Regions from separate parts of the Homo sapiens genome. Here all the other regions are reported to be linked to region 1. The links are microRNA targets in miRTarBase. Many come from high-throughput screens and were not tested one by one. Region 1 holds a microRNA gene; each other region holds the end of a gene's coding sequence.

The links. The annotated mature microRNA hsa-miR-3130-3p reads GCUGCACCGGAGACUGGGUAA and lies in region 1 at 2,201-2,221, shown strand. An mRNA with a match to its seed (bases 2 to 7 or 8) in the 3' UTR can be bound and repressed. Matches are read on the target gene's strand: a 7mer-m8 pairs with bases 2 to 8, a 7mer-A1 pairs with bases 2 to 7 and ends in A, and an 8mer does both.
Region 2: miRTarBase lists FUT9 as a target of hsa-miR-3130-3p. Seed matches in the 3' UTR shown: 7mer-m8 at 2,510-2,516 and 7mer-A1 at 973-979.
Region 3: miRTarBase lists ZNF460 as a target of hsa-miR-3130-3p. The part of its 3' UTR that is shown has no 7-base or 8-base seed match.
Region 4: the mRNA of PCYT2 is a reported target of hsa-miR-3130-3p. Seed matches in the 3' UTR shown: 8mer at 3,789-3,796, 7mer-m8 at 1,819-1,825 and 7mer-m8 at 1,460-1,466.
Region 5: the mRNA of GTPBP1 is a reported target of hsa-miR-3130-3p. Seed matches in the 3' UTR shown: 7mer-m8 at 865-871.
Region 6: the mRNA of FGFRL1 is a reported target of hsa-miR-3130-3p. Seed matches in the 3' UTR shown: 7mer-A1 at 4,165-4,171, 7mer-A1 at 3,797-3,803, 7mer-A1 at 3,737-3,743 and 8mer at 3,649-3,656.

Annotation. Positions count from the first base shown.
Region 1 is chr2:206,780,394-206,785,465 of GRCh38, reverse strand. It overlaps MIR3130-1 (microRNA 3130-1), which reads left to right and starts at 2,158; the gene lies at 2,158-2,232. All of the region lies in intron 7 of FASTKD2 (FAST kinase domains 2), which reads right to left. It overlaps MIR3130-2 (microRNA 3130-2), which reads right to left and starts at 2,232; the gene lies at 2,158-2,232.
Region 2 is chr6:96,203,965-96,209,036 of GRCh38, reverse strand. FUT9 (fucosyltransferase 9) reads right to left here. Exons shown (of 3, transcript NM_006581.4): 3 at 1-5,072. The coding sequence ends at 4,802. All of the region lies in intron 2 of UFL1-AS1 (UFL1 antisense RNA 1), which reads left to right. Among named protein-coding and RNA genes, the nearest start is that of FUT9, 190 kb to the right of the region's middle.
Region 3 is chr19:57,291,453-57,296,524 of GRCh38, reverse strand. ZNF460 (zinc finger protein 460) reads right to left here. Exons shown (of 3, transcript NM_006635.4): 3 at 2,456-5,072. The coding sequence ends at 4,295. Among named protein-coding and RNA genes, the nearest start is that of ZNF460, 14 kb to the right of the region's middle.
Region 4 is chr17:81,900,685-81,905,756 of GRCh38, forward strand. It overlaps PCYT2 (phosphate cytidylyltransferase 2, ethanolamine), which reads right to left. Exons shown (of 13, transcript NM_002861.5): 10 at 4,986-5,051; 11 at 4,698-4,763; 12 at 4,382-4,470; 13 at 274-4,260. The coding sequence ends at 4,149. NPB (neuropeptide B) reads left to right here and starts at 1,554. Exons shown (of 2, transcript NM_148896.5): 1 at 1,554-1,842; 2 at 1,936-2,221. The coding sequence starts at 1,594. The coding sequence ends at 2,064. RefSeq lists silencers at 1,212-1,261, 1,482-1,581, 1,672-2,031.
Region 5 is chr22:38,730,186-38,735,257 of GRCh38, forward strand. GTPBP1 (GTP binding protein 1) reads left to right here. Exons shown (of 12, transcript NM_004286.5): 12 at 427-3,402. The coding sequence ends at 519. SUN2 (Sad1 and UNC84 domain containing 2) reads right to left here. Exons shown (of 18, transcript NM_015374.3): 18 at 4,549-5,072. Among named protein-coding and RNA genes, the nearest start is that of SUN2, 23 kb to the right of the region's middle. RefSeq lists an enhancer at 1,962-2,011.
Region 6 is chr4:1,024,869-1,029,940 of GRCh38, reverse strand. It overlaps FGFRL1 (fibroblast growth factor receptor like 1), which reads right to left. Exons shown (of 7, transcript NM_001004356.3): 7 at 3,043-5,036. The coding sequence ends at 4,594. Among named protein-coding and RNA genes, the nearest start is that of FGFRL1, 16 kb to the right of the region's middle. RefSeq lists enhancers at 3,195-3,694, 3,695-4,196.

The DNA of each region.
Region 1 (5,072 bases):
CTTGGAATGTTCTTTCCTGCTTATCTTTCCATGGTAAAACCCCATCTCTCCATCTTTTAAGATCAGCTCAGATACCAACCCCTCCAGGCAACACTGCCTGATATCCCCTGACCCTCCTCTTCACCAGGCTGGCATCCTGATATATCCTTCCTCTATTTCCAAATATCCTAGATGATATGGTTTGGCTGTGTCCCCACCCAAATCTCATTTTGAATTGTAGCTCCTATAATTCCCTTGTGTTGTGAGGGACCCAGTGGTAGATAGCTGAATCATGGGGGTGGTTTCCCCCATACTCTTCTTGTGGTAGTCAATAAGTCTCACGAGATCTGATAGTTTTATAAGGGGAAACCCCTTTTGCTTGGCTGTCTCTCTTGTCTGCTGCCCTGTGAGATGTGCCTTTCATCTTCTGCCATGATTGTGGGGCCTCCCCAGCCATGTGGAACTGTGAGTCCATTAAACCTCTTTCTTTTGTAAAGTGCCCAGTCTCGGGTATGTCTTTATCAGCTGCGTGAAAACAGACTAATATGCTAGATCACTCGAATTTTCATGCTATATTTAACTGCCAATTTACATATCTACCTTACCCATTACACAGAATCCTCTGGCAAGAAGGACTGTCTTATTCATCTTTCTCCTAAGTGTCCAGGTGCTTGGCAAATGCTGACTAAACGAACAAATAAACTTTGATGAGGAAGACAGGAGGACGAGCTTGTCATTGGAAAACGATGAGTCAAGAAAAATAGCTGACTTCCAGAATTACTGAACTTGAGACACTTCTGGGATGTGCAGTGACCATATGCAACCCACAGAGACTCAGGTCTGGAGTTAAGGAGCACACTAATGACCACAGATGCAAATGTGGGATTATCCATAAGGTGGTAAATACAGATCAAGAAGAGAAGAAACCAAAGGACCAAAACAACAGAGCTTAAACGTTACATATTTGTTCCTTGGGTTCAAAGCCCAGCAAGATACTCTGGATTTAACACCCTCTCCCCGATGGGCCATCATAAATGAAATAATGATTAATGTATAGCATGTGGGTATACAATAAGCCAGAATTCCTACCACTCTCCTATCTAACCATCTCTTCTAGTCAACTCTCTTCCCAAATACTTTGAGTTATTCTGCTTCCAAAACCTTTGCTACTCCAGATAAGTTGCCATCTTCCTTTCTCCTTCCTCCATAAAGCACTTACTTGGTGCCTACCATGTACTGCCTTCCTCTGGATATACAACAGAGTTGTTCTCATAAATGGTCTAGGAAGAGCAGGGAATACAAACTTCTTTTTTTATAGCCTTCAAAATACCAAATCCAGGCAATTGTACATTCATGGGCATTCAGGAAATGGTGACTAATTAATCTTGCTATATCTGCCATATTGCCCCTACTTCTCCTTTGGAGAAATGTTGAGGTGGGAGGCTTAGAATTAGGTAAGGGTTTCTCAATCTCAGCACTACTAACATCCGGGGCTGGATAATTCCTTATTGTGAGGGGCTATCTTCTGCATAGTAGGATGTTAGCGGCACCCCTGGCCTCTGTCCACTAGAGGCCAGTAGCACAGACCTCCCTCCTGTTGTGGCAACTAAAAACCATCTCCATACCTTGCCAAATGTCCCCTGGGAGGCAAAATCATCCCTGTTTGAAAACCACTAGGTTAAATGAAAGCAGAATAGACAGACAAAAAGACAACATTCATGATTCTCCTCCTGTACTAATTCTACTACTGCCATTTTATTAAATGTCCTCCCAGCCTTTGTTACCTTTGTTATCCCCCCTCTATTTTCAATGTAACAATTTTGTTGGAACAAGTTATCTCTCAGGTTGCCTGGAGTCACCTGAAAAACTCTTACCCGCCCAGTACTTACTCTCTTAATCCCTCTGGGGCTGTTTCTGGAGTTTTAATTACCACTTAGCTTGATATTATTTGTCTAGAAAGTACAAGGCATCAATGGGAGCCAGCCTCAGAAGAAAATGAAGCCAGGGGAGTAAAGGAAGATTGAATTTGGGAGATATTTTTCGACCTTTATTAAATGTCTACTCTTTGGCAGGTCCTGTACTAAGTTCAGAAAAACAGGCAGCTGGGTCGGACTCCGGAGAGCTTACCAACTGAGGAGCAGAGACAGACTTACTGACACAACAAATGATGTGACACAACTTGTCATGTCTTACCCAGTCTCCGGTGCAGCCTGTTGTCAAGGCTGCACCGGAGACTGGGTAAGACATGACAAGCACAGGGACTCTGACGGTGACAATTAGGGAAGACACAGGAAATGCAGTATGAGCTGAGTCTGTCCATTCAGTGGACAGTACAGTGGGAAGCTGCTTTTTAGTTGGCCTGACACCACTTAATTGATTAACTGCCCCTAAGGGATGGGCATTTGACTCAAACTCAGTCAATCAGATGTTCTCTTTCAGAAATCTAAATCTGGAGGGAAAACTAAAAGGAAAGCAAGCAGCTGGAGTCAAGTCATTTGATGGCAAACAGATGGCCTGTGCATCTTGCCACTGAGACCTTCACAACTGCCCTAGTTTGTTCCCCCAAGGCCTCTGTGACCTACACTCTAATTTTTTTCAAATCTAAAAATTACTATGTGCTGGGCATTGTCATAAGAACTTGACATAGATTAACTCATTTAATTCTAATAACAACCCAATGAGATTAGACATAGCTCATCTCCATTTTAATAAGTGAATAAACTGAGGCACAGATAAGTAATTTGCCAAAAGTCAAGCAGCTAACAAATGGCAATGCTGAAACTCAAACCTAAGCAAGCTAGCTCTAGAGTCCATGCTTTTAATCACTGTTTTAACAAATGACATTTTATATGCTTTTCTGATTTTTAATGAACCCTGACTGATCCAAAGAGTAAGAAAAGATGTTCTGGGTAGAAAGCAGAGGTATGAAAGAAGCTGGCACATTTGAGGAATTACTGTATTTAATAGTAGGAATGCATGGCTGTGGTTAAAATGAAAAGAATAGAAAGCAGTAGCTTGAGACCAAATGAATAGTTAAGGTCAAAACTGAACTAGAAGAAGGTCCAGTTCTCACAGCTTCTCAGAAACACTGATTTAGCAAGGACATATAGACAAAAATACCTTTATGAAAAGTCCAGAAACCAATTAAGATATTGTCGTACTCCAGACAAGAACAAAACCAAGAAGAGTTGCACTGAAACAGGCAAGAAGAACATTTTACCCAGGTCAGCCCCTCCCCAAAGCCGGCACAGCTCAGCACCAAGGAGATCACCTTGGCCTAGGACTTCTCCCTTGGAGGGAGAGAGTAGAGTGTGCAACCAACATCCGGCTTTTCACTGTGCTGCCCTAGGGGCTGGATTTCTGTCTAAACTCACGTGGAATACTAACAAAACCAGCAGGGTTCAGATGCCTGAGAGCAGTTAAGAACAAAGGAAAAGGGGTGGACAGCTTCCTGCACTCAGCACAGCTCTGAGAGATTGAGAGAAGGTACGCAACCCGAGGATTCAGCCTCAGGAGGAAATGAGAGGAGTGGAGCATGTCTTCAACATCCTAGCCTTTTGGTGAGCTGTCCAAGGAGCTGGTTTCTATCTCACCTCACAAGGAGAGCGGACGAAACCAGCATAGTTTGAATGCTCAGGAGCAGTTAAGTAGGAAAAAAAGGGGTCAGTGGCTTGCAGCAGACAGCACAACTCAAGGCTTCTCTACAGCGAAGGAGAGAAAGGAGAGGAGCATCTATGTCCCCGACTGTAGTACAGCAGTCAGACACCAGAGGGAGCAAGACATTCCCTGATACTGGAAAAAAAAAAAAAAAAAGAAATTAAAAAAAAGAAACCAGTAAATCCCTCTACTTAGAAATCCATAAACACATTCAGGCCAGGCATGGTGGCTCATGCCTGTAATCCCAGCACTTTGGGAGGCCAAGGTGGGTGGATCACCTGAGGTCAGGAGTTGTAGACCAGCCTGGCCAAAATGGTGAAACCCCGTCTCTACCAAAACTACAAAAATTAGCCAGGCGTGGTGGCAGGTGCCTGTAATCCCACCTACTTGGGAGGCTGAGACAGGAGAATCGCTTGAACCTGGGAGGCAGAGGTTGCAGTAAGCCGAGATCGTGCCACTGCACTCCAGCCTGGGCAACAAAGATCAAAACTCTGTCTCAAAAAAAAAAAAAAAAAAAAAAAAAAATCATAGAAAAAGTTTAAGAGGCCCCCAGAATCTCTGGCTAAGCTGATTAATAAGAGTCTTTCCCTGTCAAAGCCAGTCTGTAAAAACAGGGAGAGGAGACTGTTTCTTTAATTGTGCAGACACCAATGCAAAGCTACAAGGAAGAAAGAGCATCAGGGAAATGTAACACAATCAAAGTACCAAAATAAATGTCCAGTAATCAACATTAAAGAGATGAAGATCTATGAACTGCCCAACAAAGAACTAAAAATAATTGTCTTATAAGAACACAGAAAAGTAAATGAAATTAGGAAAATGATATATGAGCAAAATAAGAGTATCAACAAAGAATTGATAAACTATAGAAAGAACTAAACAGCAATTCTGGAGCTAAAGAATATAATAACTGAACTGAAAAATTGACTAGAGGGCCATACCAGCATATTTCAGCAAGCAAAAGAGAATCGGAGAATTTGAAGCAGGTCATGTGAAATTACCCAGTCCAAAAAGAAAAAAGAACAAAGAAAGAAGAAGAGTTAAGAAAGCCTAAGACACTTACAGTACACCAACAAGCAAACCAATGTGTGCATTATGGGTGTCTCGGGAGAAGAAAAAAAGGAGCTGAAAGCTTATTTAAGGAAATAGTGGCTGAAAACTTCACAAATCTAGAAAGAGTAATGGACATCCAGATTCATAAAGCTCAAAGGACCCCAAATAAGATTAATCCAAAGAAACATACATTAAGATACATTGTAATCAAACTGTCAAAATTCAAAAACAAAAAGAACTTTAAAAGCAACTCGTATCTCCCACAAGGATGAAAAGCAACTTTTCATGTACAAGGGAGCCCCCATCAGACTAGCAGTGAACTTCTTAGCAGAAACTTTGCAGGCCAGAGAAGGGACTGGGATAATGTATTCAAAGTGCTGAAA
Region 2 (5,072 bases), not on the chromosome of region 1:
TGTTTTATAAAATGCATATGAATATGGATATATTCAATATGAATTACTAAAGGGGAGAACACTGTGGATAGTAGTGAAGCATACCCATTTGCAAAATGCTACAAAATCTCTAGATTGAGACATCCAGAAAAAAAAAATCACCTTAATTGACTGATTGCAATACAATGGAATGAAGTTAGGAGAGAGACTATATTTCTCTCCATGTGGTTTGGTAATAGATATCTGCCCTTCACAGTGCTCGCACTTTATACTCTCCTTAAATACTAATTTTCTTTCCTTTTAGAAACAGTTGATATGTTACTAATATTTGCATAGAATGTTAACGTGATCCAAATCCTTTCTAATCTTTCTTGAGATGTTACTTCTTTTGATGCTTTACAATGTTGTAAGATAGAAAGGAATTAAAATGCCTTCCTTTTGCATCCAGGTGACAAACTAACAAAATAAATATAAAATATCATCTCCAATTGGTACCAATAAACATTGTCACTACTCTTAAAAAATATTTTACAGGACCACTTATCACATTCATGTATTTATTCAACAAGTATTTGATATGACCCTCCTGTACATTAGGCACTGTGCTTATCCTTTAGATTCTGATGTTTGTTATATTTAACAGCTCGATTGTAATTGTTAAGAAGTTTCTCAAAATGTTTCTCAAAATGAGATCAGAGTTCAAGGGAACTCAAAGATATGATCAAACACAGTCATAAGGTAAGGACCTGAAATTTGTGGTAACTTTAATTCACGCAAAAAAAAAATTCTAGGATATTACCTTAAGACTCATGGAATCTAGTTTAAAAATAGGCTGACAAAAAAAATATCAGAGGCATAGTTTCCTATTCTTTTAATATTTAACCTCCAATTGGAGGTAAGAATTTAAAGCCTCCGCAAATAATTCCTAAATATTCTGTTGCTTTATACATCAAATGCGCTGAGCTTTCTAAGCCCCTCAAAATAAGAAACATTTCTGCACAATCTAAGATTATCAGGAGTTTTACAGTAAATATAACAATTTTAAGCATGTATTTGTTTCCCACTAAGATGATTTTTTTTTTCAGTTTCTACTTCATATTGTCAGATATACAGCTGTCATAATATATATGACTGTCAGGCTCTCATGTCTTTCTTGTTCAGGGTGTAATACTCTGGATGTGGACAATTCAGTATATATTCTTATTAGTAAGGTCTATAATGATTAACATTTATTTATTCTTACTGATGTCTACAATAATTAATATTTAAATATTTAGAGTATTGAAGGTAATAGCTTTTCGATATTTTGAAATAAAACATTTTAAATGGTCTGTTCCCTTTTTTGTGTCCACAATTTAATTCTAGGCATAATTATTGGTTTGTATAATCAACAGCAAACCAATTTTGTTGAATCAATATATCTTTTTCATGAGTTTCTTACAAAGAATTGCAACCCACAGGATTTATTAAAGGAGTGGCTGTGAACCATACACTTTCTTGAGGGTTGTATTTCACTTAAATGTAGTGATAGCCCATTTCCTTCTGCTGAACTCAACTCCTAAAATATTTAAACCAGAACGAATGCTAACAAGTTTGATGTTTTATTTATTGTATACCTTCAAAAGTCGAAGTTCTTCTACATGAGGTGTACCATTCTATAGGCCCTAAAAATACCAATAAGACATTCACATTTGTAAAAATTGAGACATAATTCTATAATAAGTTATGAATGCGATTGAAAAGAAAGTGGGATAAAGAAAGATAGGATCCTTAAATCCAAATCTTAACTATTGTCACTAGCTGTGGGGTGTGTGTGTGTGTGTGTGTATGTGTGTGTGAATGTGTGTCTTGAATAAATATCTCTGGATCTAGTTAACTCATAAGTAGAAAGAAAAGCAATTATAATTTCTATATTATAGCAATTATAAACAACAAAATTATAATTCCTTCCAGCTCTAAAACTCACACATCAATGGACCCACAGCTAAAGGGTTCCATTGAGTCATTTAATTCTTCCACTTCAAATTTAGGAAACAGTCTTCTGGGACTTAGTAATGGGGTTTCAAAGCACCTGCTAGATACTTAGTAGTACTGCCTCTACTTGCGTCATATTATCAGTGTGTGATTATAGTCATAGTCCAACAAAGAGCCTACATTTGTAGTCAACAATAGAGACACTGCCTTTAGGTCTTTCAGTTCTTTCAAATCATGAACATTCACTAGAGCCAAGGCAGGTTGAAATAATATTGAATGCTTTTAATATTGAATGTTTTTCTGCCTTCAAAAAAAACAGGTGGGCCAGACACAGTGGCTCATACCTGTAATCCCAGCACTTTGGGAGGCTGAGGCAAGTGGATCATTTGAGGTCAGGAGTTCAAGACCAGCCTGGCCAACACAGTGAAACCCATCTCTACTAAAAATACAAAAACTAGCCAGGCATAGTGGTACACGCCTGTAATCCTAGCTACTCGGGAGGCTGATACAGGAGAATCACTTGAACCTGGGAGGCCGAGGTTGCAGTGAGCCGAGACTGCACCACTGCACTCCGGCCTGGGCGACAGAGCAAGACTCTATCACAAAAATAATAATAATAAAAAAAAGCAGGTGCTTTCTAAACTTGTTAGCAGTGTATCCTCTTTAGATCTCTATGCTTTTTATAGACCAAAAAATTTGACAAAGTAAATGTAAATGTATGAATTTGACTGTCTTACCAATTAATTAAATATGGATGGAGATCTTTACTTATTGAGGAGGACATCCACATAAAAATATTATTTCTTAATGCATTGTGGTTAGAAGAGATAATACGGAGAGAATAATATGTTGGGTCAAAAGAGTTGACAAAGTTTGCAGCTCAGAAACATGTCAAACAGCTAAGCAATTGGGGAAATTTTCTACTTTTTTTCCCCATTAAATCAGCATTGACCCATACAAACGTCATTCGGAGTAGCACATGCATATAAACAGTCTCAGGCTGAATTGAAAGGAAGCTTTTATATGTCTATCCACTTAATTGTAAGCTCATTTTAGGCAGTGATAGTACCTTGTTCATCTTATCTCTGTGGGTGTTAAGGCAGTGCCTGACACTGCATTCAATCTTGGCTTAAGAAATATACCTGAGAATCAAACAATCCTCTATTCATTACAGGAATATTCCTCTGCTCAAATCTTTCTGGTGCTGGGGTGAGCTTATTCTCTCACAAGATAGTCTGGATAGCTGGATCTATGCCCTTTTTACTGAATTCTTTTTGAATTTTGCTGATGTCAATTTGTAATACGAATAAGTCACAAATAGACCCAAATGGATGTCTCAGAACATTCTAATTTTTGGGTGGATTATTGGCCTGAAAGGAATAAAGGCACTAAAGATCATTTTGAGGAATGTTTTCCTTGAAGAATCCTTAATGGCCCATCTTTTTTCACCTACGATCTCTGCTTATATCCAGCTCTCCTCTAGCCTTATGGAGGAGAATGCTATAGGCAGCTGCAAGTTCAGGAATATACTCTTCAAAATTTTCATGTAATGGTAGGTTTATTTGGTTCTATAAAGCCCTGAACATCATGGTCATATGTGCTATGTATGAATAATTACCAAAATGGGATATAAAAGTCATCTCCAATTAGTACTTCTAAAGTAGAACTGTCACTTCCTTGAAACAATCATTTTTCTGGGAATTCAATTGCATTTATTTATTCATCCAACAAATGTGCATTGAGATCTTACTGTGTGCTAACACTGTGTGTTTTCTATATATCCCCACTTTATTATATTTAACGTCTTATATTTAATACCTTGATGATAATTTTATTTAGGCTCTCTTAAATGATAGAACTCAAATCAAATGATAGGGCTCATCATTATGAGCCAAATCTTATATCCATATGGTAAAATAAGACCATTTTAAATATTAGGGCTTCAGAAAAAAATCTTAAATTGATACATAATTAAACATTGTTCATAAATGACACCATTTATAAATATATTTATAGGTATCATTTTTCTTTGTTATTTGAGGAAATTATTTGTTTTATTATGACAATGAGTGTCATCAGTAGCAGAAAGAACTGTCTTAGATTTTCTAAAGTATTATTGGGATTACTTCCCAGGTGCTGAAAATCACAACAAATTGGATATTTAAAAATACTTGAATAATTTAATTTAAGACCATGAGAATAAGTAGCTGCAAATCAGCTTAATGAAAATAAATGAGAAGTCTAATAGCTTCCCGAATAGAACAGTTCTGCTTCATATCTTTCTTATTCACTCCATGAATAATTTCACCTTCACAAATGTGATAAACAGGTAAAAAAAATAGATCAAATAGAGACAGTTATACACTTCATTCATCTTCGGAGTCAAAGAGGTTAGAATTCAATCGCAACATGTTCTTCCTCTGTTATAGTATGCAAAGTTGGAACTAGACATTGTAATACTTAGTGAAAATTTTTCATACTTTAAGATGTGCATCTTCATTTCCCAAATAGATTAAACAGCTGATCAGTGTGGAAACAATAATCAAACCACAAGCTTACATTATGGACAACTACAAAAATGTGAAAAAACAATGTTTACAAATGATAATGAAGAATAAATTACTCTCCAGTGCACATAATTAGGTATATACAGGATAATTTAAAACCGAATGGAATGATTGCTCATGCTGAGCTTTTAAAAATCTCCACCAAAATATACACGTTACCCTAGAGAGGGTGATAAAAATAAATTGTGACACAAAAGTAGTATGTTGCATCTCTTCTTATCCTCAATACTTGGATGATATCTCATCAAAATATTTATCAAGTGTGCAAGTGATGAAAAATTTTAATTCCAAAACCATTTCTCTAAATTACCAACAGACTTATATTCTTGATGCCTTTTCACATGATCGCAAGCCAAACATGCATGTGATTCCCAAAATCGTGGAAGATTTACAGTGAAATCCTTCCTCCAGTTAAAGTAACTAAGGTATAACTTATTGTTTTTGTCGACTTCCTTCAGATACTTTGCTAGCTCACTGGGAGAGTTATAATCTTCCACATGAATGAATGAATCTGCTGGAATATAATTCTCATAGTTTTCCCTAGATGGTCCC
Region 3 (5,072 bases), not on the chromosome of region 1:
AACAAAAAATGTGATTATCTCCATAGGTGGAGAAAAAGCCTCTGGTAACATTCAATATCCCCTCATGATGAAAACTCTTAACAAATTACACATAATAATAGAAAGAATGGGCCGGCCGCGGTGGCTTACACCTGTAATCCCAGCACTTTGGGAGGCCGAGGCGGGCGGATCACGAGGTCAGGAGATCAAGATCATCCTGGCTAACATGGTGAAAACCCATCTCTACTAAAAATACAAAAAATTAGCCAGGCATGGTGGTGGGCACCTGTAGTTCCAGCTACTTGGGAGGCTGAGGCAGGAGAATGGTGTGAACCCAGAAGGCGGAGCTTGCAGTGAGCTGAGATCATGCCACTGCACTCCAGCTGGGCGACAGAGCGAGACTCCATCTCAAAAAAAAAATTAAAAAAAATTATAATAATAATAGAAAGAACGTACCTCAACATAATAAAGGTAATAAGTAACATACCCACAGCTAACATCATGCATAATGGGAAAGTGCTGAAAGCTTTCTCTCTATAATCTGAAACAAAACAAGTATGCCCACTTTCACACCTTTTAACAAAGTACAAAAGGTCTGAGACAGAGTAATCAGGCAAGACAAAGAAATAAAGGGCATGCAGATCAGGAAGCATGAAGTCAAATTATCCCTGTATGCACATGACAGGATCAAATATATAGAAAACCCTAAACTCCAAAAGTGGCACCAAAAAAATCTTAGGACTGATAAATTCACTGAACTTGCAGGATATAAAATCAACATGCAAAAATCAGCAGCATTTCTATACACCAACAATGAATTAGCTGAAAAAGAAATCAAGAAAGCCATCCCATTTACAATACTTCAACAAAAATAAAATAAGAATACATGGAAAACTATATAACACTGATGAAGTAAATCAAAGAGGACACACATAAAAAAGGAAAAACATCCCATGGTCATGGATTAGAATGGTTACTATAAAAATGAACATACTTTCCTGTAAGAGATAGCTTATGAAAAAAAATGAACATACTACCTCAAGTGATCTACAGATTCAATGCACTCTTAACAAAATACCAATGACATTTTTCACAGAAATAGAAATAGTAATCCTAAAATTCATGATATCACAGAAGATACTGAATATCCAAAGCAATCCTAAGCAAAAAGAACAAAATGGGAGTCATCACACTACCTGACCTTGAAATATACTACAAAGTGATGGTAACCAAAACAGCATGGTTCAGGTATTTTTTAAAAACCACACAAACCAATGGAACAAAACAGAGAGCCCAGGAATAAATCCCATTTACAGCCAACTGATTTCTAACAAAGGCACAAAGAACATTCACTGGGAAAAGGACAGTCTCTTCAATAAATGGTGCTGGGACACTGGATATTCATATGCAGAAGAATGAAAGTAGACTCATCTCTCACCATACACAAAAATCAACTCAAAACACCAAGTATGCTGGCTCATACCTGTAATCTTAGCTACTCAGAAGGCTGAGTTGTGGCTCACTTGAGTCCAGGAGTTCAGGACCAAGCTGGGCAATGTGGTGAGACTATGTCTCTAAAAAATAATTAAAAAGCAAAAACAAAAATTGGGAATGTATTTTTAGGGCAATTTGAATCTATGCTCTCAGGATAATCAACTCAAAATGGTTTGAAAGCTTAAATGTAAGAGCAAAAACTATGAAACTACAGAAGAAAACATAGGGGAAATGCTTCTGGATATTGGTCTGGGCAAGGATTTTATGAATACCTGAAAATCAAGGTAACAAAAGCACAAATAAACAAAGGGATTATATTAAACTAAAAAACTTCTGCACAGCAAAGGAAACAACAGAATGAAGAGACAACTAGTAGAGTGGGATAAAATATTTGCAAACTATTCATCTGAAAGGGATTAATATCCAGAATATAAAAGGAACTCAATAGCAAAAAAAATAAAAATAAAAAATCTGATTTTAAAATGGGTAAATAAGGTGAATAGACATCCCTCAAAAGGAGACATACAAATGGCCAAGTATATGAAAAAATGCTCAACATCACTAATCAGGGAAATGCAAATCAAAACCACAATGAGATATAATTTCACCTCAGTTAGGATGGCTATTACCAAAGATAAAAAATAAAAAATGCTGCTGAGAACATGGAAAAGGGGGAACTCTTATATATGGCTGGTAGGAATGCTAATTAGTATAGCCATATGGAAAACAGTATGAATGTTCCTCAAAAATCTAAAACTATAGCCAGGCACGGTGGTGTGTGCCTGTAGTCCCAGCTACTCAGGAGGCTGAGGTGCAGGACTGCTTGAGCCCAGGAGTCTGAGACCAGCCTGAATAACACAGCAAGACCCCATTTTAAAAAATGAAAAATAAACAAAAGTTAAAAATACAACTACCATATGATCCACTGGTAATGATCTATACCACTACTGGGCATATATGCAAAAACAAATATATCTATACGTCAAAGAGAGATCTACACTCCTATGTTTATTGAAGCACTATTCATAATAGCTAAGAAATCAGTCTAAGTGTCCATTATCAGATGAATGAAGAAAGAAAACATGGCATATATACACAATGGAATACTACTCAGCCATGAAAAATAAACCTGTCATTCACAGCAACATGAATGAGCTTGAAAGACATTAAGTGAAATAAGCTAGACACAGAAAGAGAAATACTCCATGTTTCTACTCATATGCAAGCATAAAAGGTTGAGAATGGTGGTAACCAGAGGCTGGGAAGGACAGCAGAGAGGCAGATAGAGATTGGTTAACAAATACAAAATTACAGCAAGTAAGATTCCATTTGAATAAGTTGTAGTGTTCTGTGGCACTGCAGAATGAGTACAATTGGCAATAATACATTTTATATTTTCAAATAGCTAGAAAAGCAGACTGTGAATGTTTCTAAACACAAAGAAATGATAAATGATTGAGATGGATATGCTAATTACCCTGATTTGATCATTACTCTTAGCACACATGTATTGAAATATCACACCAAACCCCATAAACATTGTCAATTAAAAACAATAAAAGAAACAAAAAGAATACCAAAAGAGAAATTCCAAAATATTCTGATTAAACATATTAATTACTACGACTGGACTCAATCCATGGTGACAACTACCTGCATATACATATGCAGGTTCACCTGTTAAAATTCCAGTCACTTTATGTATAGTCAGCCTTCACACAATCTTCTGTAAGACTGAAAAATGAGATTCCTTCTCTGTGTTTATTTTCTGAGTTTATCATAATCTTTTAACTTACTTTAGCTACATGTCTTATTTCATTTTTGGTTCCAAATTGACCTCTAGAAAATTGTTGAGGTGAATTTTGAACTATTTACTCTCTCTAAAGAGCAGTAAAAAAGCTGAGAAACCACAATCAGAGGGAAGAATTAGGACTCCCTGGATTACATTATGTACAAACAGCTACAATATCATCTCCATCCTACAGAAAAATAAAGAAGAAATTGACAAGTAGATCCAGATCAAGAAAAAAGTATGGTACTGGGTGGTTAAAGACACACGGAGAAACAATTTTTTTAAAAAAGTCAAAGCGTCTGAAGTGTGCAGTAAAATGTGCCCATTCATATGTACATCCTTTATCTCCTTAAATGTAAAAGTATTTCATAACTCAAGCCTCCATCTTTCTCATAAAGATATATGCTTCTGCTCCTCAAGAGTGGAGACAATGCTGTGGAACAAAGCAGGCTTTCACAAAATGTTTTCAAACAAACCGTTTGTCTACAGCACTGGACAGCAGTGAATGTATACACAGGGAAAATAAAGGGGATGAGGCCCTTTTGTTTCTGAAACATTTCCCTCTCCCAAATAAAATAAGGAGGGGATGACAAATTGCCATGGGCTTGTCAGGGAAGTCTGAAAGAAGCTGTGCTTCCATTTCTTTCTCTTCCCTATGACTCCTCCTCCTTTGTTTGAATGTCCCTGAGATAACATTTCACTGTAAACTAATAAGAAAGATGTGGCTGAAGGTTTTCCTAAGTGCACAGTAACCACTGGGTCTCTTTCATGGGTGAATTATCAGATGTAGAATAAGACTCTTGGCTGTGTCAATTTCTAACATAATTGTTTAGATGACAAATGATGATCTAAAACAGGTTTTCCCACAGAGATGATACTTATGGAGTTTCTCTTCAGTATGAATGACCAGATGGTAAGATGTTTCCTCTCACCACAGATTTTCTTCAGTGGTTATATTAAAAAACTATTTCGCTAATAGGAATTCTTGGATGTTGACTGAAGTGTACGTAAAAAGTCTTTCCACATCTGTTACAATGGTAGGGTTTCTTCCACTATGAATCCGTTGATGTCGAGTGAGGAGGAATGAGCGGCAATTGAAGGCGTTTCCATATTCACTGCACTCACTGGGCTACTCTCAGTGTGGATGATGGAGTGTTGAATGAGATCTGTGCTCTCACAAGAAACGTTCCCACTCTGGATGGGTTCGTGGGACTTCTCTGCAGTGTGAATCCGCTGGTGCCTTGTGAGGGGTGACCTGCGGTTGAAGGCCTTCCCGCACTCCACGCATTCATAGGGCTTCTCTCCAGTGTGGATGCTAAAGTGTCGAATCAGGTTTGTGGTCCGACAAAAGGCTTTCCCACATTGGATGCATACATACGGCTTCTCTCCAGTATGAATCCACTGGTGCCTTGTGAGCCCTGACATGCGGGTAAAAGCCTTTCCACACTGTAAACACTCATAGGGCTTCTCTCCAGTGTGGATGTTGAAGTGTCGAATGAGGTCTTTTCGAATGCTAAAGGCTTTCCCACATTCTTTGCACTCAAAAGGCTTTTCTCCAGTGTGGGCTCTTTCATGCAGGACATAGGTGGAATAGTGAGTGAAGGCCTTTCCACATTGACTGCACACAAAGGGCTTCTCACCAGTGTGAATCCGCTCATGCTGCTTGAGGTGTGACCTGCAGTTGAAGGCCTTCCCACACTCAAGGCACTTAAAGGGCCTCTCCCCAGTATGGATAATGAAGTGTTGAATGAGGGCTGTACTCTCATAAAAGCCTTTTCCACATTCGCTGCATGCGAAGGGTTTCTTC
Region 4 (5,072 bases), not on the chromosome of region 1:
GGGAAAGGTGGCCCTGGGAGGCTCCTTTGTGTGCCTCTGCTCCCCACAATCGTGGTGGGAAGGGGCCGCTGGGGGAGTGGCAGCCCCGGCATCTCAGGCTGCTTCTGGACAGAGCACAGGCTGTGTCTCCAGTAACCTAGGGAGCCCTTGGCATTCATGGGGCCAGTGACCCGTGCCCAGTGTCTCTTGACCCTTCCTCACAGCAACCTGAGGAGTAGACCAGGCCTCACCTGAAATCTGTGTCAGGGTTCTCTAGAGAGACAGGACTCTATATGAAGAGTATATATGAAGAGTTTATTGGGAGTATTGACTCACGTGATCACAAGGTGAAGTCCCACAATAAGCCATGTGCAAGGTGAGGAGCAAGGAAGCCAGTCTGAGTCCCAAAACAAAAGTAGAGAAGCCGATAGTGCAGCCTTCATCCTGTGGCCAAAGGCTGCAGAGCCCCTGGCAAGCCACTGGTGTAGGTCCGAGAGTCCAAAAGCTGAAGAACCTGGAGGCCGACGTGCGAGGGCGGGAAGCATCCAGCATGGGAGAAAGATGGAGGCCAGATTCAGCCAGTCTAGTCTTTCCACGTTCCTCTGCCTGCTTGTATCCTGGCTGTGCTGGCAGCCGATTAGGTGGTGCCCACCTGGATTGAGGGTGGGTCTGCCTCTCCCAGCCCACTGACTCAAATGGGAATCTCCTCTGGCAACACCCTCACAGACACACCCAGTGACAATACTTTGCATCCTTCAATCCAGTCAAGCTGACACTCAGCATTCACCATCACACCTGGGAAGCATGGAACCCAGAAACAAGTGCCAGGGCTCCAGTGCCAGTGCCTGTCCTGGGAAGATACCCAAGAGAAGACATGACCAGGACCTTGGGGGAGCATGAAATGGTGAGGGCACAGTGAGCTTGAAGGCTGATGTCACCTGCCAGGAGAGCGGCTGGCAGTCCTGCCTGGTGCCCCCCAAGGGGCAGAGCTGGCAGAGAGGGGCCTCCAATCGAAGGCCAGGAGTCGTGGAGCTCCAGTGCCTTGGTGTGGCTGGCCTTCTTGCCCCCCTCCCAGAGGACCCCGCCAGTAACAGCCCTGCTGGTGGAACCTTCCCCAGTGGGCATGAAAGAAATGAGGGCCCCACAAGCCACATGGACTCTGATGCCTGGAGCCAAGAATACCCCTTAGGGTGGTAGAAACCGCCCCCGGGGCACTGTGCAGTGTGGCTGGCTCTCCAGCATCAGGAGTACTGGGGATTGCCTGGGGGACGACTCCTAGGGCTGGGCGCCCGTGGGCCCTCCCCTGCTGCCACTGCGGCCCACGCAAGCCGGGCCTGAAGGGCGCGAGCGGCATGGGTGGGGAGCTTGAGGGGGCGTTGGGCTCCCACCAAGCGCCAGATCCTTGCGCGCCTCCAGCGCTCGCCCGCGCGGCTGGTTCCTTTGGGATGCGGAGGTGCGACGGCTCCTCCGCGCGCGCCCGCTGCACCCCAGCCCGCCCGCCGCCCCTCCCGGCCCTCCGCAGCCTCGGCCCGCCCTCGCCGCAGATATAAGGCGGCCCAGGCGGTGGCTGCTCCGAGCCCGGACGCCGCCGCCCACCAGTCAGCCGGCGTCCCCATGGCCCGGTCCGCGACACTGGCGGCCGCCGCCCTGGCGCTGTGCCTGCTGCTGGCGCCGCCTGGCCTCGCGTGGTACAAGCCAGCGGCGGGGCACAGCTCCTACTCGGTGGGCCGCGCCGCGGGGCTGCTGTCCGGCCTCCGCAGGTCCCCGTACGCGCGGCGCTCCCAGCCCTACAGAGGGGCGGAACCCCCGGGCGGGGCCGGCGCCTCCCCGGAGCTGCAACTGCACCCCAGGCTGCGGAGCCTCGTGAGTCCGGCGTGCCGGGGACTGATGGGGGGCGGCGGCAGGACGTGGGTGGGGGTGCGGCGGCCCCTCAGCCTTTGCTTGCCTGCCCCCCAGGCTGTGTGCGTCCAGGACGTCGCCCCAAACCTGCAGAGGTGCGAGCGGCTCCCCGACGGCCGCGGGACCTACCAGTGCAAGGCGAACGTCTTCCTGTCCCTGCGCGCAGCCGACTGCCTCGCCGCCTGAGCCCGGACCTCTCCTGGCACCGCTGGGGGCCCCCCGCCCCCACCGTCCCACTCGGTGACCCCAGGCCCCTCCGGCGCGGGATGGCGCCCCAGGTCTCCCCTACTCCGCTCACCCCGCAGTTAATGGCAAACGAATAAATAAATGAGGCGGCCTCGGAGTGAGGGGTGCTGGAGGACTGGCAGCCAGGCCACGAGGGGAACGGGACCTGGAAATCCCCAAGCCTGGGTATGAGAAGGCAGCCGAGTGTGCGGCGGCAGGGCAAGGTTGGCCTGGGCCGCCCAGAGGTCTTCAGACCCAGGGGCGAAGCTGGCCACGACCCAGCCCCGCGGTGAAGCCGCGCCTAGCCTTGGTGCTCCCTGGGGGAAGTGCAGGGCCACGGCTGGCCCGGTTCCCAGTGTCCTCCCCCAGCCCTTCGCTCCCCAACTCGAGAGCCAAATCTGTGAGGGCATGGGCTGGAGCCCCTGGCTGCCTTCCTCTTGCCCCCATCCCTTCTGGCCAGGCCAAGTCCGAGGGTGCAGGGGCAAGGAGGAGAGTTGGGGGCCTGAGCCCTGGCTCCAGAGGCCCAGAGCATGCCTCCCCAGAGCTGAAGGTGGGAGATGGGTAGGTTCTCCCTCCGCCGTTGGGTGTGACTCCGGAACTGGCTTGGGCTCTGGCCTCCAATGCTGCTACGGGGCCAGGCCCACCTCCGGGCCCAGGCAGCAGCACTGCAGGGCCTTTCTACCCTCCCCAAGCCTGGGGCCCAGGCAGCCCCTGTCCAGCACCAATCTGTCTATGGGGAACTGGCTGGTCCCTCTGCTCAGGGGACCCCGCAGTCCAGGGTTCTGAGTGGGAGCATTGGCACCACCCCACTCCTGAAAGCGGGGGCCTGGCAGGATGAGGATGGCCTGTGCCCCCCACACCTTGGCCCCTGGCTCGGAGAGCAGGGTGACAGGCTGCCTTCCTGGGCTGTGGAGAGCCTCGCGTGCACCTCGCCTCCAGCTCCTGTGCTGGGTCGTGAGGTCGACCTCACAACAGCAGAGGACAGGCCCATGGGGTGCCACATGGGCCAGGTGCTGTAGGGCAGAGGCCATTCTGGAGAGGAATGTGGGGCTGAAAAAAGTACTGATCATAAGCCTCATTTTGAATGCGGCGAGACCAGGCAATCTATGGCCTCCCTAGACACCTCCCGGAGGCTGCAGTAAGAACCTCTTCGGCCTCTGGGCTGCTCCAGGCGGGCCGTGACAGGGGTGTGGGAGACAGAGATCCCATGGCCCCTGGAGGGGCCAAGGGGCAAGGAGCCTCAGCTCTGGCTCTCCTCCTTATTCTAGCATCGCCTGCTACAGGGGGTGGCCCCAGGCTTTGGAGGGCTGGAGGCCTGGGTTTCACTCACTGCCAGGCTGCCCGCTGCACTCCCGGCTGCTGGGTGCATGGTGGGGGCAGGGCCAAGAGGGTCTCCTTGCTGAGTGGTTCCCTGGTCCTTCCCAGCAGGGCTGGGAGCCCCGCGCAGCACTGCCACCAGGCTTTATTCGGTTGTACCAAAGAGATTTCCGTCAGCCATGTACAAACAGAACAGAGTCCATAAGGAGAGTGGCGAAGCTGCCGGGAAGGAAGGCAAGCGTGTTTTCCTGGAGCCAGGCGCTGGGTGGCAGGACACCGTGTTGGGGGGTGCCCAGTGGGAGGTGGTGTGGTCTACACCCAGAGAACTAAAGGGGTGACCGCAGTCACTGCTCCCTAAAGCCCTCTGCTCTGCACCTCCCGCCACAGCTGGGTGGGCAGTCAGTGTGGCCTCTGTCCAGGTGGTGGGGGCATCCGGGGACCAGGTGGGGGCGCACGCAGGAGCGGTGCGTTTCAGGCTGCAGGTGCCGTCTGCCCGTCTCACTTCCGGCCTCTCCACTGTGCTGGACACCCTCTCTGAGCAGCTTTGCTGGAAAGAGCGGAGAGCCTGCTGCAAACCAGGCACCTTGTAGGCAGGCAAGGAGGCAGAGTCCTCACCAGCCCTTCCAGAGCCAGGCCAGTTAGAGAGGGCGGCCCTGCAGAGTCCTATGTCCAAACGCAGAAGGCGCAGAAGCAGAGCAGGGGGAGGGCCGGCCAGGGCCTCTGCCAGGTTAGAAGTCACCATCGCGCTCCCCCAGGGGCTGTGCCGCCTGCTGCCTGGCAGCCTCCAGGAAGGCCAGCTCCTTGGCTTCCTTCTTCTGGTTTCGCGCCTCATACTCCAACCTGAGAGGGCAGGGTAAGTCTAGCAGAGAGCGCCCATGAGGCGGCTCCGAGGGGGAGGGCACGGTAAGTCTAGCGGAGAGCGCCCATGAGGCGGCTCCGAGGTGCCCCCACCCAACTGCACCTGTTGGTGATGATCCGCTGGACGATGAGGTCTGTGGTGAGGTTGCTGCCACTGTCAATCTGACGGAAGATGCCCCTTCTCTTGGGCTCCTGGGGGTCCAGAGAGGAGGAGCGGGATGAAGGTCCCTGCTGACCTCCCCAAGACCCATCTGATGCCCTGCCCCAGAGGGAGACCAGCGCCCAGGGTCCCATGGGAGTGGTGCAGTCGGAGCAGCTGCGCCACCATGCCCGTTTCCCAGGCAGGCACAGTGAGTCATTAAATGGCTGGGAGGTGCCAATGGCAACCCCTGTGCCCAGCAAGGGCCAGCATGACCCACCTGGTATGGGTCGGAGCCATCCCTGTCAGGGATAATTTCTGTCTTGCCGTGACACACCAGGTCCACCTGGAGAAGGAGTGGGGTCAGGAGCCCTCCCCGGGGAGGCAGCGGCCGTCGCCACCCACAGCCCAGCACAGGCCCCGGGGGTTGGGAGAGCTGACCCTGCCCTTTCCTCAGCCCAGGTACCTCCTGGGCCCCGCCTAGGAGCCCACAGCCAGCCTGCATTCCCAGCCCATGCAGGAACAGAGGTGAACAGAGGGAACGAGGTGAGCCCATGCGGAGCCTCACCTTGAAGTGACTTAGGAGCTCTGCTGTGACCGCGTACGGGGCTCCAATCACCACTTCTGACACGTACTGTGGGGACAGTGGGGGCAG
Region 5 (5,072 bases), not on the chromosome of region 1:
TGCCCCTTGCACCCCTCTCCCCAGCATCTTTCTCCATTGTCCCCTCATTGGAAAAGGAGGCTATGCCTGGATCTGTCTGTCCATTCTGTTATCTGTCTCCCATGGGTCTTTCCTCTGGTTCGTTCGCTTCCTTTCTCTCTCTCCTGCTCTGCTTTGTGCTTCTCTGAACGGCCGCTTCTCACACCCTCATCATGTGTGTCCTACCCACCCTGTAAGGAAGGCAGGGCAGGCACTGGCTCCATTTTAGAGACAGAGGGGAGGTGCTGCATGCAGAGTGACCCAGTAAATTCCTGGTCAGGCTAGGGTGAGGACCACGCAGCCTGCTCACGCATCTTCCGTCCCTGTCTCCCCGCTGCTCAGCACCTCTGCTCTCTGGCCCTGCTCCTGATGGGCCAGTGCTTCTCAAGCTCCTTCTCTCTCTTTCAGCCTAAGCCCAGCAGTGGAGGCCGGCGACGAGGGGGCCAGCGCCACAAGGTGAAGTCCCAGGGGGCCTGTGTGACTCCTGCCAGCGGCTGCTGAACCTTCCCCTGGCCCACCCTCACCACCCAAGGGGTCATCATCTCTGGCCACCACTCCACCAGATGGGCAGAGCAGCTATGACCGCCACCCAGCCCTCCCGCTCAGGCCACAGCCGGAGCCTCCGCATTGCCCCCACCCCCATTTTCCAGGGGGGTTGTAATTTATAAGCTGACGAAGGTAGCCAGACTTCCGGAGGACTGACCATCTCTCACTGTCCTCCCCACCTTCTTCCTCACTCACACATTTTTTGTACATCTGGGCCCTTAGTTTTTATTCTGTTTATTATATGTCTCTGTCTCTCTCTATTGTGTGTGTGTGTGTGTGTGTGTGTGTGTGTGTGTGTGTGGTGCAGGAGTGCCACCCCCAGGGCCCTGTCAACCTCTCTTTTCTCCTCCATGGCTGTCTGCCTGCGTATCTGTCTCTGAGAATCCTCGGGGCGGTCAGGGGATGTCAGGAGGGGAAGGAGCCGCCCTCCCTATCTTGCTGCTCCTCTTGGCACTCAGGGGCACCTTCCATGGAGCCAGACCGGGTGGAGGGGCTTCTGGGATTTGGTGTCTGCTGCTGCCAGAGCAGGAACCCCCAGTCTAGGACTTGGGCATTTTAACAGGGAGAAAGTAGTGGCTTCCCTTTTCTCTCTCTCCTCCTTTTTCCCTTTAAGCCCACAGATTCAGGTCATGCCAAAAGCTCTCTGGTTGTAACCTGGAGACATGTGGAGGGGAATGGCGATGGGATTATAGGACTCTCCCCATCTCGGGCCCTGACCCTGACCCTTGCCACCAACCCAAAGACAGCTGGTGGGTTTCCCCTTGGAGACAATCCTGCGTTTGCCTGGGCCGGCCCTGGCTGCCCTCAGCTTTCGCTGATCTGCCCGGCCTGGAGCCTCCCATCACCCCGCTTCTTGTTGGGCCTCAGGCACTGGTTACCAGAAGGGGGTCTGGGTCTGCTCAGGATCATGTTTTGTAGCACCTCCTGTTGGAGGGGTGGAGGGATGTTCCCCTGAGCCAGGCTGAGACTAGAACCCCATCTTCCCTGAGCCAGGCTGAGACTAGAACCCCATCTTCCCCACCACGCCACCCCTGTGGCTGCTACAGGAGCACAGTAGTGAAGGCCTGAGCTCCAGGTTTGAAAGACCCAACTGGAGCGTGGGGCGGGCAGGCAGGGGTTAGTGAAAGGACACTTCCAGGGTTAGGACAGAGCATTTAGCCTTCTGGAAGAACCCCTGCCTGGGGTGGGACTGTGCAGGCCAGAGAAGGTGGCATGGGCCTGAACCCACCTGGACTGACTTCTGCACTGAAGCCACAGATGGAGGGTAGGCTGGTGGGTGGGGGTGGTTCGTTCTCTAGCCGGGGCAGACACCCAGCTGGCTGGGTCCTTCCTCAGCCTTGCCTCCTCCTGTCCCCAACCCTTTCCTTTCCTCCTGCTTGCGGACTGCTGGTCCCCTCTCCTTCCCTCCTTCCAGCTGTTTCTAGTTACCACCTACCCCTGGCCGTGGACTGATCAGACCAGCATTCAAAATAAAAGTTTGTTCCAAGTTGACAGTGTGGTGCTCCCTGCCCAGCCCCTCCAGGTGGAGGTGCTGCCACGGGAACGCAGTTGCTCTGCCTGCCCTGGGGCCCCTGGCGACAGCTGGGAGCAGGGCAGTGCTGTGAGGAGCCCAGCTTTCCCAGTCAGGCAGGCATGGCTTCCGTGTTCAGGCTCCCTCACCAGCTGGTGACACGGGACAAGCTTACAAACCTTCTCTGAACCTCAGTTTTCTCATTTACAAGAGGCAAAGCCATCCATCACCTTGTGTGGATTCAGAGAATGTGAGGCCCTGGGGTGTCCTACACAAGGGAAAGGCTTGCTCAGTGAGCGGTCTGCACACCGTTAGCCACCCTGCCACCTCTGTGCCCTGGGCAGGCTCCAAAGGAAAGCTCTGGCTGGGACTGCCAGGAGTCTCACACGCTCCTGTTGACATTCCCAGCAGCCGCCCCTGAGGTCGATGTTTGTTCTGTTTTTCTTTTTCTTTTTTGAGACGGAGTCTCGCTGTGTTGCCAGGCTGGAGTGCAGTGGTGTGATCTCTGCTCACTGCAACCTCCGCCTGCCAGTTTCAAGTGATTCTCTGCCTCAGCCTTCTGAGTAGCTGGGACTACAGGTGCACGCCACCACGCCCAGCTAACTTTTTGTATTTTAGTAGAGACAGGGTTTCGCCATGTCGGCCAGGGTGGTCTTGATCTCCTGACCTCATGATCCACCCGCCTCAGCCTCCCAAAGTGCTGGGATTACAGGTATGAGCCACCGCACCGGGCCTGTTCTATTTTTCTAGTTAAGGGAACTGAAGCTCAGAGAGGTGTCACCAGCAGGTGTTCATTCCCATGCCAGCCTTGCCCCCCGGCTTTTCCCAGGCAGGCTCCTGCGTGCCCACTGGCTCCAGCCTGGTCCTCTGTCTCTTGGCTGCTTCACTCCTGCTCTTTGTCCCGACTCTGGCCCTGCTTACAGGGGCCACTACCTGCTGGTGCCTCCATAACAAGCGTCTGGCGTTGAGACCCCTGGCATGGCAGGGGCTTTGGGGTCTGGTTTCCACAAGGCTTAGCCATGGCAGAACCTCGTTTTATTTTAACTCTTTGCCCCTACAAACAAACAGCAGTACTTGCCAGAACCATTCTTGGGATTCAGGAGCTCGGGCGACTGCCTTGGCCTCTGGCCGCACCCAGGAGGGTGGGGTTGGATCTGTGTAGTTGCCAGGCCCACACCTGCCAGCAGGGGGCTGACTGGATCCATGCTTTACTGTGTTTAATGGGGGTAACAGGGGTCCCTACAGCCCTCCCAGCTAAACATTTGGAACAAAACACCAGCCCTTTTGTAGTGGATGCAGAATAAAATTGTTAATCCAATCACCTCCAATGGCAAGGCCTGACCCTTCTGTGTGTGCAGCAGGTGTTTGTGGCGTCTTTCCCAGGAGTAAGGCCTGTGATGGTGGGATGGGGATGGCCAGACCCCTGACTCCACAGTCAGGACTGTTCTGGCTTATCAGCCACCCTGGCACAGAGAAGGTCACAGGGATGAATATGCCACGCACAGGGGCAGCACAGGTTTAGTTGGGTTGGGGGAAGTACCATGGAGCCGGCAGTGTGAGGGCTGTGCTGTGAGGGCCCAGTAGGATTTGAATGTACAGATGGGCAGAGGGCATGTGCCCAGCCCAGGCTCTGGACTCTTGCCACAGTGTGTGGCAACTTCCAGGGGCTTGTTTATTGGTGCTGCGTGGGGATGTCTCCTTTGTTTAGATGGCGTCAGAGGCAGAGCAGGTGTCAGTGAAGGGGAGTGAGCACAGGACCAGCTGTCTCCCAAGAGGCTGAGGAGCTGGCCCAAGGCTTTGGGGGCTGGATTTGTGCCTCACCCAGCTCCTGCCTTGTGGCTGTCTCCACAGTCCTCCCTACTGACTGGCTTTCTGCCTTTGTTTTCTCAGCCATGATGAGGAGCAGCCCTGGGCCAGGTGCCACGGTCAGTATGAGAGGCTCCAGGATCAGGCTAGAGAACCACGCGAACCAGGTCTGGGGAGCTATCTGTGGGAAAGGTCAGGGCCTGTTTTTCTCCTAAGCTGCTGGCTGTTCAAGGGACCTACCTCCTTGTCCCTTCCCAGTCACAGGTCCAAGGGGCAAATAGCGAATTCCCATGGAGGAGAATCACTGCACTCCAAGTGGACGTGGCTGGTAGGTAAGTGTAACTTTTTCTGCTGCTGTTCAGTGGTACTGAGAGACAGGAAAGCCCCACTGCTCCCGCCCCACCCTTTGTGATGGGTTATCAATGACAGCTAATAAAGCCACCTCACTGCTTCCTCATGCCAGCCCTTGACCCACAAACACTGGAGGAGACCTGCCTCAGGTCCCATCCCCCACCACAACTGGGCTTTAGCTGAAAGTTGTGGGTTTCTGAACTTCAGGAATAAGTCTTTGGGGACATTCGTTTGGCCAAGAATTCATTCCCTCATCTGCCCAAGAGCAGCTGCCCTAGGTGATAGGCAAAAGCCACATGAAAGCCACATCCCACAGCTCTTGGGCGTCATTTATTTTTTGCATAGGCATAAATTAGGATCTGGAGATAAAAAACTTAAGAACCAATAGTGCAGCATTTGTGACAGGAGAGCGCAAAACAAACCCTGGCTGCCTCGGGATGGAGCGGGGCGGCCTCACCACCACTGCATCCAGCCTCATGCTCCAGAGCGGATTTGAGGCTCAGTGCTGCAGTGAAGGCCTGCCCGCCTTCTTGCCCCTTCCCCGCAGCCAGACCACCAGACACAGCCGGAACCAGTGCCCCAGGCCCCTCTCCACGGCCAGGAACAAGAAACTGAGTATCACCCAGTGCCCCACAGAACGGGGCTAGGAATCAAGCCCTTAGCTTTTCAGTTAGAAAAACAGACCTTGAAAAATATATACATAATACAGTGGGGCCTGCTGGCTCTAAAAGTCCCCTCCTCCCCCTTCCCTATCCAGGGTAACTTCTGCCAGCCTCTTCCCCCAGCCCCCACCAACTGCCCCACAGAGAACAAACCAGAAGGGCGACTACCTGAACAAGAG
Region 6 (5,072 bases), not on the chromosome of region 1:
CCCATCTGTGCTCCTCGTCCCACGTTCCTGACCCGGTCCCCCAGCCCCCAGCCTCGGCCTGGGACAAGGCTGTGATCTCTGGCCAGGTCCTCTGACCCACGGGCCCATTGGGTGGGGCTGCCCACATCCCCTATCTCTGCCTCATGCTGCCACCCTGTCCCTGGCAGCAGACGCAGGCACCCCCGGGACAGCTGCAGGCGGCTTATGGGCACCCCTTTGAAGCCAGGAGGGCCGGGCGGGGGCGGGTCACACCCGGGGGTGTTGGAGCCTGGGCAGCACTTTCAAGTTAGCCGGGCTTTACAGGGAAGCAGCTTATCACCACCAGGACAGGGCCAGGGAGGACCATGGGCCTGGCCCCGTGCCCACACCCTGCCCCGCCATGCTGAGCCTCCCCCGGGCACCACCATCTCGTACCCAAAGGGCCTGGCCTGGGGGCCGCCCTGAGGACACAGCCAGGTCCCCTCCGTTGACTCCTGGGCTGCAACCCCCACCACTACAACCCACACCACCAGCAGCCCAGGACAGAGCCAGGGACGGGTGCCCAGCCCTGTTCCCGTCCCCACAGCACGAGCTGCCCCATGACCTTCCTGTGGTGGCCAAGGGCATGGGACCTGGTCTTGCCCACGTGAAGGGTGACAGTGGAAGAGCCAGGAAGCCCCAGGTGCAGCCCCTCCCTGGGGAGACGGCTGCCACTCTGGGCTCCTCCCTTCTCCCTGGGCCCCCTCGGTCGCCCTGCCCCTCAGATTCCATGCCCCAGCCCCACCCCTGCAAGGGCATTGCCCAGAAGCCCGCTGGCCCCCAAGGAGCCTCCCGACGCGTGTGTGTCGGTCTCTTCCTGGGCCTGGAGCCCCCATGGTGCAATGGTGTGCAGGTGACCCGGGCAGGACAGGTGAGACGGGGCCCACAGAGCGGCACCCCCACCTCCCACAAGCCCCACCCGGCCCTTCGAGCCTCCTGGCCAGTGAGCCTGGGGTGAAGGGCTCCCCATCTTTCAGGTGCTTGGCCGGAGCAGACCACTGTCAGAAGCGCAGTCCTGCCCTCTGTCCTGCTGGCCACACTCACGCCCTGGGCGCCTCTGCCCGCCTCCTGCCTCAAGTCCTCGAAGCACACGGGGCCTCTGTGCTCCCAGGCCTCCTGCACGTGGAGGGGAGGGGAACGCAATTTTGTTCTTGGGAGTGTGGACGTGCAGATGTGACGAGGGAGCCGGCGCAGGGCACAGACGCGTGCTGCCGTGACGGAGATGCGGGAAACGGCATCGGGATGGCCGTGTGGCTGGTGGGGGGACAGGAGCCACGGGGACAGGAGTCCACGGGGCAGGGCCAGGCAAGAGACAGCCAGGAACACAGGCCAGGCGTCCACAGGGCAGGGCCCCGGCAGGCTCAGGCTGGAGACCGCCGAACAGAGGGGCGTGGGGGCGGGAGCAAGGCTCTCGGGACTGGACGGCCAAGGGGGAAGGGTCTGGAAGTCGCAGGGGAGAAAGCAGGGGCTCCAGGCAGCCCCTGAGGAAGGCTAGGGAAGGACTGAGGGGTCTGAGCTCCAGGCTATTGGCCCGGGGGTGGCTGGGGCCCCATAGGCAGGAGATGGGTCTGTCCTGACTCCTTGGGGTCCCCCTGCCCAGCCTGGCATCCAACGTGGCCACAGCATGACAAAGTCCAGAGCCCAAGACCCAGAGGCTAGGCTGTGCCAGACCTGTCCGTTGAGGACCACACAGCACTAGTCAGCACCTCCTGTGGGCAGGCGCAAGATGGGCTGGACCACAAGTCAAGGGTGGCCCTGAGTGGGGGCCTGGACCTCACAGCAGGCAGGGTGCAGGCGTGGGGTCTGCGGTCCCAGTGTCTCCTTCAGAGGCTCTAGGGGACAGCCCTCTCGGACTGCCCATCCCTCCGCCCACTCCCTGGGGAGGGGCAGCCTGTCCTCTGCAACCCCATGACCCGCTGCCTGAGGCCTCCCTGCTGCCCAAGGTGGCCAGACGCCTGAGGTCTCCCTTCCACCCTCCCCTACTCCAGACTGAAACCCGACCAGGCGTCGGCCTGCAGCCTGTCCTGTCTGGGGAACATCTGTTTGGCTGCCAGCTGTGGGCCGCGTGGAGCCCCCACTGTCCCCCAGTCAGGGTGGCCAGGCCTCCCACAGCACCCATCAGCCACACGCAGCCCTTACCAGGGCCATGCCTGAAGCTGTCACCGTCCAAGGAGTCAGGACTTCCTCAGGGGAGAGAAGTAGGGTCTACCCTGGGGAGGACAGAGAACAAAAAGGGGACATCTTGAAAGCCATGGGGTCCCCAGAAGCTCCAGTTGGGGAGAGGTCCCTGACACCTCTCCCCAGAGCCCACCTGTCGTCTTTGAAGCCAGGCAGGGTGAGCTTCCTCCAGGGAAAAGCTCTCAGAACCAGAGCGGGTCAGGAAGCGCGCTGCACGCCAGCAGGACCAGGCTCCGGGGACGCAGTGGGCCTCACGCTTTGCTGAATGCACGAGGGGCCCCGGTGCCTTTTCTTACGAGGCTAACGGAACCCCCGGCAGGCAAGGGCCCCGGGTGGAGCTGGCAGCCCCACCCCTCCTGCTGACCGGGTAAGATGGGGTCGGCCACCGTCGCAGCACCGCAGGGTGGCTGGGAGGGCACTCGGACGGAGCCCTGAGGTCAGAGGTGACCTGAGCCTGGCCCCATCCCCAGCTCTGAGGCCAGTCTGCTGCCTCCTGTAGGGCCACCCACCAAAGCCTGAGGAGGGGCTGGGGAGTGGCCAGGCCCTGCACTGAGGGCCATAGGTGCCAGCCCCAGGACACAGAGAGGGCGCCGCTGGGACAGGGGTGCAGGACGCAGGCCTGGCCAGGCATGTGGGCAGTGCTCACGCCCAACACCACCGAAGCCCAGTATACCCAAACTCTCCCGCCGGGAGGTGCAGTTCTCAGCCCCTGTGGCTCTGGCCCAGCGAGGGGACTCCAAGAGGGTTAGGCTGCTGGTTCTGGAGACCAGGCCTGACACACAGGCACAAATGTGAGCACACACGAGCATGCACACGTGCATGTAGACATGGGCAGAAACACCAGCCTGGAGGGAAAGGATGCACTTTCATGTTTAACAAAATAAATTAAATATACGGGGCTTCAGCTCAAACTCTACATAAAATTACAGAGATCTGGGGCCACCACGACAGTGGGGTGGGGGGTGGTGTCTGGCCTGGACGGGGTGTGGTCATCAGCATGGCTGAAAGACCAGGCGGGTCCCGGGCCCCAGGAGAGACCACAGTCCCTGCAACCCAGTCTTCCTTCCATCATTATTAATATTATCTTCATTTCTTAAATATAAATACCAAGGCCCCTTCTCTGTGTCAGGGGGAGAATGCAGTGGGGATGAGCCACTAGCCATGGGCTCCAGCCTCTCAGGCTTGGGGCTGCTGTGCCCCCAACCCCAGCCCACAGCAGTAGGGGACTCCTGGGCACCCAAGGCAGGTGGCAAAAATAGCCGCCAAGGCCAGGGGACAGAGGCGGGGATGGAGGCGGGGACTGAGGCGGGGACAGAGGCGGGCAGAGTTGGGGGAGTGACGGTGGAGCAGGGAAAGTCCCTCATCAACTATGAGCCTCACGGCACACGTACTGCAGGCTTCACGGCACACCCTCCCAAAAGCACGTCAGTCTGCGTGTGTCCAGGCAGCATATCTGCACCTGTGTGTGCATGTGTGTCCGGAAGTGTGTGCCCAGGCAGCATATCTGCATGTGTGCGTGCGTGTGTATCCGGACAGCATATCTGCACGTGTGTGCATGTCCAGACAGCATATCTGTGCACATGTGTGTGTCCAGGCAATATCTGCACGTGTGTGAGTGTTGAGGCAGCATTATCTGTGTGTGTGTCCAGGCAGCATATCTGCGTGCGTGTGTGTGTCCGGACAGCATATCTGTGCATGCGTGTGTGTGTCCGGACAGCATGTCTGCGTGTGTGTGTGACTAGACAGCATATCTGCGTGTGTCCAGGCAGCATATCTGCGCCTGTGCACGTGTGTCTGGAAGTGTGTGTCCAGGCAGCATATCTGCATGTGTGTGCGTGTCCAGACAGCATATCTGTGCACACGTGTGTGTGTGTGTGTCCAGGCAATATCCGTGCATGTGTGTGTCAAGGCAGCATTATCTGTGTGTCCAGGCAGCATATCTGTGCACGTGTGTGTCCGGATACCATATCTGCACGTGTGTGCGTCCAGACAGCATATCCGTGTGTGTGTGTGTGTCCAGGCAGCACATCTGCGCATGGGTGTGCGTGTGTATGTTCAGGCAGCATGTCCTTGTATGTTCTGGCATGTCTCTGTGCGTGTGCGTGCATTTGGGCAGCTTATCTGTGTGCCCAGGCGGCATATCTGTGCATGTGCGTGTGTGCGTACGTGTGCCTTCAGGGAGCACGTGTGCGCGCATGTGTGTGCATACATGCATCCAGGCAGTGTGTGTGTCTGTGTGTGTGTGTCCAGGGGCTATGCCTCACACACAGACTGCCTGGGGTGCTGGCCATTCCTCCTCGCCATGGGTCCCCTGCCTTCGTCTGCAGCTCCGTCCTCCATCCTCCCAGTCTGCCTGTCTGGCCGGCCCCCCCGTGCCCACTGCAGATACGGTGCCGTCTAGCACTGATAGTGGATGTGCTGGTGGACCTTGCCCTCCACGTGTGAGTGTGTGTGAGAGTGTGTGTGTGTGTGTGTGTGGATGTCTGTGTAGAGTTTGGGGTACAACTTAGGGCCAGCAACTGGGCCTGGGCCCAGTAAGTGCTGGGGGGCTGCCGGAGACCCATGCTCCTCACACAGCCCCACACCAGGGCCAGCGCTGAGGGCGGCCAACGAGGGAAGGTCCTTGTCTCCGCTGCGGTCGCGGGCCGTCCCCGGCGGGCGGTGCCCAGGCAGGGGAGGGGCAGGCGCGGGGGTGCACGGCTTCTTCTGGGCCTGGCAAAGCCACAGGAGCAGGGTGCCCAGGATGAAGACAGCGCCGGCTGGGATGCCGATGACCACGGGCCACGGCAGGCTAGTGGCCGAGGACGAGGAGGCCACAGGTGGCCCTGGCGGTTTTGGGTCTGCAAGAGCGAGAGGAAAGGAGGTAGGGAGGGGAA